2 linked regions of the Homo sapiens genome follow. The protein of the gene in region 1 purifies or fractionates together with the protein of each later gene. This does not show direct contact. Each region holds a gene or a part of one and is shown on either strand. Other genes may lie near its edges.

Region 1 (3,500 bases):
TACTGCTATTTTTAAAGAAAATAAGTAACAGGCTAAGAAGAAAGCTATTAATAAAAGAACCCACATCTTCCTAATTTCATAGTAAAACTATCTAATCTCCATACTGCCTGCACCATATGTGGTTTGAATATGTGGCTCTCTCAGTCTGTAAGGCTTGTATTAATTTTATCTCTCACTCCCATTTCTGCATAGAGAACTCCTATTTACTTGTTAGATTTCACCTTAACCTTACTTTAGGGAAGCTTTGTGAGCCTTCAATCTAAGCTAGGTTCTTTTGTTGTAGGTTCTCATAAAATATATTTTCCTTATTCCAGTAATGTATCTCAGTTGATTATTCATCAGGATGATTGATTATCTTTTCCTGATACTTAAAAGCTGTGTGAGAGCAAGAACCATGTTAGCCACATCAGAGTTTGATCACTATCACATCTCTTAGTACCTTGCCTAGCATGTAATAGTAAAATATTTGTCAAATGAATGAATAAACACTGTGCTGTTAGAGTATAGGCTTCAGTGTGGTTGTGAATCTCTTCTCCCTTTTGCTTTTATTGTCCTTACCTTGCATTTTCCTACTAGCTACTCTTTCTCTTACCTGCTAATAAACCTTTCCAGTACAACTCTATTCTCAGGTTTGTTCAGAACAAGGCCCTACTAGTGATTTTGGAAACCTTATAACAGATTGTTGATCTGATTCCCTGGATAAGATTCCAGGAATTTTGTTTACCTCCTGAAACTGTATGCTACATTTTGTATGATATGCACATGTGCATTTTTCTTGGGAAAGGATCTGGTATTCAACAGGGACATAGGTGGCTTACTCTAAAAAAATTGCTGCTATAGAGGATTCTTAGCATGGGAATTAGCCCATATATTCTTGTAGCTTTCTGCTGTCATTACAGGAACTTTTTCTAAAATCAGAAATGGAAAGGCCATTGTTTTTTAGAATGCAGTCAGCACAACTACCTGGTAATAATTGGCCCAGTGGGTTGGTATCTGCTTGGAAATGATACTTCTGAGAAACAGATTTTGTTACCAGTTAACTTGATGGGCAGTGTTGGCTATGGTCAATGCTAGATAAACAAGTAATTAATAACTGAAGCTTTTAATAAATGATGGTGTTCTCACTCATAGATGGGAATTGAACAATGAGAACACATGGACACAGGAAGGGGAACATCACACTCTGGGGACTGTTGTGGGTGGGGGAAGGGGGGAGGGATAGCATTAGGAGATACACCTAATGCTAAATGATGAGTTAATGGGTGCAGCACACCAGCATGGCACATGTATACATATGTAACTAACCTGCACATTGTGCACATGTACCCTAGAACTTAAAGTATAATAATAATAATAATAAAAAAGAAAAATAAATGATGGAAAGACAATTGAGCAAAAATTTAAGATTTAGTTTTCCTGTTAATTGTGTTATTAGACCTCCCCCCACCAGTTTTTTTTAGTTGATCTTACTTGACTAATCACAATGTCTAGGCCTTTTCCTTTTCTTTATTTTGTTGTGAAAAAGCTGTTGCTATGTCCAGTAACACAGAAAGGAAGAGAGATTTTCCAATTGTCACTAGTGTTGTTACCATGCTACTGATTCCTGAAGCATCAATGGACACAGCATGATTTCTTAATGAAGATGGGAAGTAGACACTGATTTGCTTCATTGGAGATTCTTTGAATTGCTCTACTTATTGTAGTAAGTGAGGAGATTGAGCAAGGGATTTTTCCTAAGAGTCTTGCTAAATGATGCTAGGCAAAACTTAGGAGAGCAGCAAGGAAAGTACTCTGTTTTGTACTAGGCATTGTTACTAGATTGCCAACTCTAAAGACAGAGTTGGCTTTTGGGGGTTATCATTAGTGCATTGAAAGAGTCAATTCCATTACTCTGTCTTGTCCTATAGGTAAGAATCCACTAGGAACTCAGAGAGTCTTTTTCTTTCATGGTGCATTAACCATTTCTGCTGAGTGCAGCTCATTTCCCTCCCTCTACCTGTTCTCCCAACTGTTGCTGTGGACGTGCAGGAGAGAACATACCTAGTATATAGCCTACCATATGCCAGGACGGTACATTCTTACTCTTAGGAAGAATGGTGTTTTCCTGGTCTTCATCTTAATTTATTACCCTCTTTTGGAAAATTTTGGTTGGTTTTCCCTTTGTTTTCTAATTTTTTCTACCATTAAAAGTGTTTGAAGTGATAAGCATAAAGGGTAACTTTTGAATTGTTTAGTTTTGTGACCATATTTACAAAGTAAGGCAAAATAAAATAGACAAAATACATAAAAATTATGATTGAAATTTGGGAAAGGACCAGAATTTTCCCCCTATGGTTTTACATGTTCGTCTTTACATTTTTAAAATAAACTTTGCTGGACTTTTTTTTTTAAATGCACTTGGGATTTAAAACCTGTAAGTAGTTTTAGAAACTCACACATCACTTTGTACTCTGAATTCCTTACTGGAAAACCAAGTCTCCACCCTCAAGGAGTTTTCCTCCTTCCCAGTTACAGGTCGGTCTTTTTCCTTTGTCAGTAGGATTTGATTGTGTAACTAGTATTTATTGAGCAATTCCTACAAGTGTGTGACACTATATTAGATGCCTAATAGGTATTATTTCATCTTTGTAAGACTAGTGCGTAAGTACTACTGTTATTTTATATAAAAGGTTAAGACATTTGTCCAAGTTGACTTAGCTAAAAAGTAAAACTTCATATATTTAACCACTGCTCTCTACAGTATATGGCCTCTCAGTATGAGATTTTATTGATTCCTATTAAAAGAATTTGCAGATACCAAAATATGAAAAATTCTGTGAAACTGGGTTACATACATTTAAAGTTGTTATGGAAGAACTAATGACTAGGAATATGAAAAATATAGTAAGGGTCTTGCCTTACCAGTTTCAAAAACTTGTGTTAGTCATTGTAAACTAAAAAGAGTATGGTACTAGCGAAAGAATAGACAACTGGAAGAGTTAATCTTAGAGCCCAGGATATATACATATTTCAATTCAGTGGATAAAAGATTATTTATTAAATGGTGCTGGTAGAATTGGTTAGTCATGTGGATGTAACACATACTATATACACCAATTTGGAGGAATTAGAAATTTAAAAATAAAAAAGTTTAAAATTTTAGGACAAAATATAGTTGACTATGATGTCGAGTTGCAGTAAATCTTTTTATGAATTCTTTTCAAACGAGACAGAGTTCAGAATTTATCAAAGAATGGATATTTAAATTTAAAAAAATTATATTCCAAAAATATAACCAAATACAAAAGATAAATAATAGAATAAGGAAAATTCTTATAACAAATTTGGTAAGGTGTCAATATCCATAATATATAAAGAGCTTCTATGAAGTGATTAGAAAATATTAATAGGCACGTTACAGAAGAACAAATTCAAGCAGTCAGTAAGCTATTACCTTAATGATTAGAGTAATGCAAATTAAAGTAACAGTGAGGTGCCCATCAGATTTGCAGAAAATTGGA
Region 2 (3,500 bases), on another chromosome or scaffold:
CATCTCAGAAGACAAAGAGGAGGCAAGACTTGGAGCAAAAGTCCTGAAGAGCAGGGCAAGGAGCTGCAGGGTAGGCGGGGCTGGGTGGGGTGGTGGGGGTAGGCAGGAGGTGAGTAGGTGGGGCGGGGGGTGGGCAGGGGAGCGCTGGCAGCTGCAGTCCGAGCAGGGAAGCGCTGCAGGCCAGCAGCTGGGCCAGTTGTCACATCATCCACCTGACAAGCAGCAACAGAGTATTTGGAGAAATGTAGGAGGGGGAAGGCTTTTTCCATCCTGACATTATCTTCCCTAACTCACATTCAGAAGCTGACTTACAAAAGGTGTTCAATGTCCTTTTCAAAACCTCGAACCAGAAGGCCGTGGTTCCTTCTGCACGTGGCTGTGCATCAGAATCACTTGGAGGCCTTTTGACACGGATTCCAGGGCCCCACCTCAGACCTCCTGAGTCGAAATCTCTGTGGGTCAGGCTCCAAAATCTGTTTTTGTTTTTCTAAACCATCTCTCACAGTAATTCTTATGTGCCCTCCCCTAGGAAACATTTGGGAACCATTGCCAGATGAAGGTTCAGTTAATGGAGGAATGGAAGAGGGCTAGCCTCAACCCAGAAAAGGGAGGCTGACTTTGCTGAACCTTCCATCCGTTCCAAACCCCATCTGTTCACATTTCTCTCAGTGACTTAGATGAAGACATAGAATTCATGCTTACAAAACTGAGGATTGTGTAAATATAATTTAATAAATGGGGTTCTTTTTTGCTTAATATGATACGATGAGCATTTTCTTATGTCATTATATAGTCTTCAAAAATAACTTCAATGACTACATCATAATCTATAGTACAGGTTGGACATTTAGGTTGTTTCTGTTTTTATGCTGTTATACATAATGTTGCAATGAACTGAACATTTTTGGCCATAAATCTTTGTATTTCTAGTTTTTTTCTTAGAATAGCCTAAGCATAAATTAGTGCCTCAAAAAATATAGATAATAGGCTGGGCGCAGCAGCTCACACCTGTAATCCCAGCACTTTGGGAGGCCAAGGTGGACAAATCACTTGACTCCAGGAGTTCAAGATCAGCCTGGGCAACATGGTGAGCCCCATCTCTAAAAAAAAATACAAAAATTAGCCGGACATGGTGGTGCATGCCTGTAGTCCCAGTTACCTGGGAGGCTGAGGTGGGAGGATCACTTGAGCCCAGGTGGTCGAGGCTGCAGTAAGCTGAGATTGCACCACTGAACTCCAGTCTGGGCAACTGAGTGAGGCCTTGTCTCAAAATATATATATATATTTTTTTTTTTTTTCAGGCTTATATATATTCCTAAATCTATGTATCTATCTTTCTTTTTTAGGACAGTTATTCCAAATTAGACTCCCACCAGAAATATGAGGATCAGTAATTCACCAAACTGCCAGTAAAACTAATTAAAATTAATTTGATAGGAAAAAAAAGTGTTTTAGATAGGGTCTTGCTCTGTTGCCCAGGCTGGAGTACAGTGATGCCATCATAGCTCACTGCAGCCTCAAACTCCTGGGCTCAAGCAATCCTCCCACCTCAGCCTCTGGAGTAGCTGGGACTACAGGTACATTGCACCACCACACCCAGCCAATTTATTCATTTTTTGTAGAGTTGGGATCTCGCTGTGCTGTCTAGGCTGGTCTCAAACTCCTGAGCTCAAGCGATCCTCACGCCTTGGCCTCCCAAAGTCCAAAGTGCTGGGATTATAGGCGTGAGCCATGGGGCACTCAGCCAGAACAGACTTATTTTAATTTGTTTATTTCTTACTAGTGACGTTGAACTTATAAAATATAGTTGTCTTCCATATTACTTTGTGAATTGTCTGAATTGTCTGTGAACTTTGTCCAATTTTCATTTGAAGTGTTGGTCTTGTCCTTTTTTTTTTTTTTTTTTTTTTTTTGAGATGGAGTCTCACTCTGTCACCCAGGCTGGAGTGCAGTGGCGCGATCTCAGCTCACTGCAAGCTCTGCCTCCCAGGTTCACGCCATTCTCCTGCCTCAGCCTCTGGAGTAGCTGGGACTACAGGCGCCCACCACCACTCCCGGCTAATTTTTTGCATTTTTAGAAGAGACGGGGTTTCACTGTATTAGCCAGGATGGTCTCGATCTCCTGACTTCATGATCCACCTGCCTCGGCCTCCCAAAATGCTGGGATTATAGGCATGAGCCACCGAGCCTGGCCCTGGTCTTGTTCTTATAAATAAATGTAAATGTTTTTCTCAGTAACAGATATCAATCCTTTGTCACAGTTGTAAAAGTGTTTTTCCAGTTTGAAATTTGCCTTGTAATTTTTGTAATAGTTTTTCCATGCAGATATATTTAATATTTGTGATCAAATCTAACAATTTTTCCTTTTTTATAATATCTTTTATTTTTTGGTTAGAAAATCCTTGTTTATCTTAAGACTCAGGAAATGTTCACTCATATTCTTTTTTTTTTTTTTTTTGAAACAGACTCTCACTCTGTCCACCCACACTGGAGTGCAGTAGCACGTTCTCGGCTCACTGCAACCTCCACCTTCCAGTTCAAGCGGTTCTTGTGCCTCAACCTCCCAAGTAGCTGGGATTACAGGCATGGGCCACCATGCCTGGCTAATTTTTGTATTTTTTAGTAGAGACAAGGTTTTGCCATGTTAACCAGGCTGGTCTCGAACACCTGACCTCAAGTGATCTGCCTGTCTCGGCCTCCCAAAGGGCTGGGATTACAGGCGTGAGCCACCGTGCCCTGCCTCTTTTTTTTTTTTTTTTTTAGTATTTATTGATCATTCTTGGGTGTTTCTCCGAGGGGGGGATTTGGCAGGGTCATAGGACAATAGTGGAGGGAAGGTCAGCAGATAAACATGTGAACAAGGGTCTCTGGTTTTCCTAGGCAGAGGACCCTGCGGCCTTCCGCAGTGTTTGTGTCCCTGGGTACTTGAGATTAGGGAGTGGTGATGACTCTTAAGGAGTATGCTGCCTTCAGGCATCTGTTTAACAAAGCACATCTTGCACTGCCCTTAATCCATTTAACCCTGAGTGGACACAGCACATGTTTCAGAGAGCACGGGGTTGGGGGTAAAGTCATAGATTAACAGCATCCCAAGGCAGAAGAATTTTTCTTAGTACAGAACAAAATGCAGTCTCCTATGTCTACTTCTTTCTACACAGACACAGTAACAATCTGATCTCTCTTTCTTTTCCCCACATTTCCCCCTTTTCTATTCGACAAAACCGCCATCCTCATCATGGCCCGTTCTCAATGAGCTGTTGGGTACACCTCCCAGACAGGGTGGCGGCCGGGCAGAGGGGCTCCTCACTTCCCAGACAGGGTGGCTGGGCAGAGGCGCCCCCCACCTCCCAGACGGGGCGGCGGCCGGGTGGGGGCTGCCCCCCGCCTCCCTCCCGGACGGGGCGGCTGGCCGGGCGCTCTTTTTAAAATAGGATTACTTTTTAAATATTTAACTTTTTAACCCACCTGGAAGTAAAATCTGTCTCAATTATATTGTTGTG

The links. The genes of interacting proteins can lie anywhere in the genome.
Region 2: the proteins of AASDHPPT (region 1) and EHD4 fractionate together in Homo sapiens (co-fractionation; one large-scale study listed by BioGRID). This does not show direct contact.

Annotation. Positions count from the first base shown.
Region 1 is NC_000011.10:106,080,662-106,084,161, forward strand, and holds part of AASDHPPT (L-aminoadipate-semialdehyde dehydrogenase-phosphopantetheinyl transferase), read left to right. Parts: intron 1-3,500. UniProt on the Homo sapiens protein: Catalyzes the post-translational modification of target proteins by phosphopantetheine.
Region 2 is NC_000015.10:41,962,558-41,966,057, reverse strand, and holds part of EHD4 (EH domain-containing protein 4), read left to right. Parts: exon of another isoform or gene 1-70; intron 71-3,500. UniProt on the Homo sapiens protein: ATP- and membrane-binding protein that probably controls membrane reorganization/tubulation upon ATP hydrolysis. Plays a role in early endosomal transport.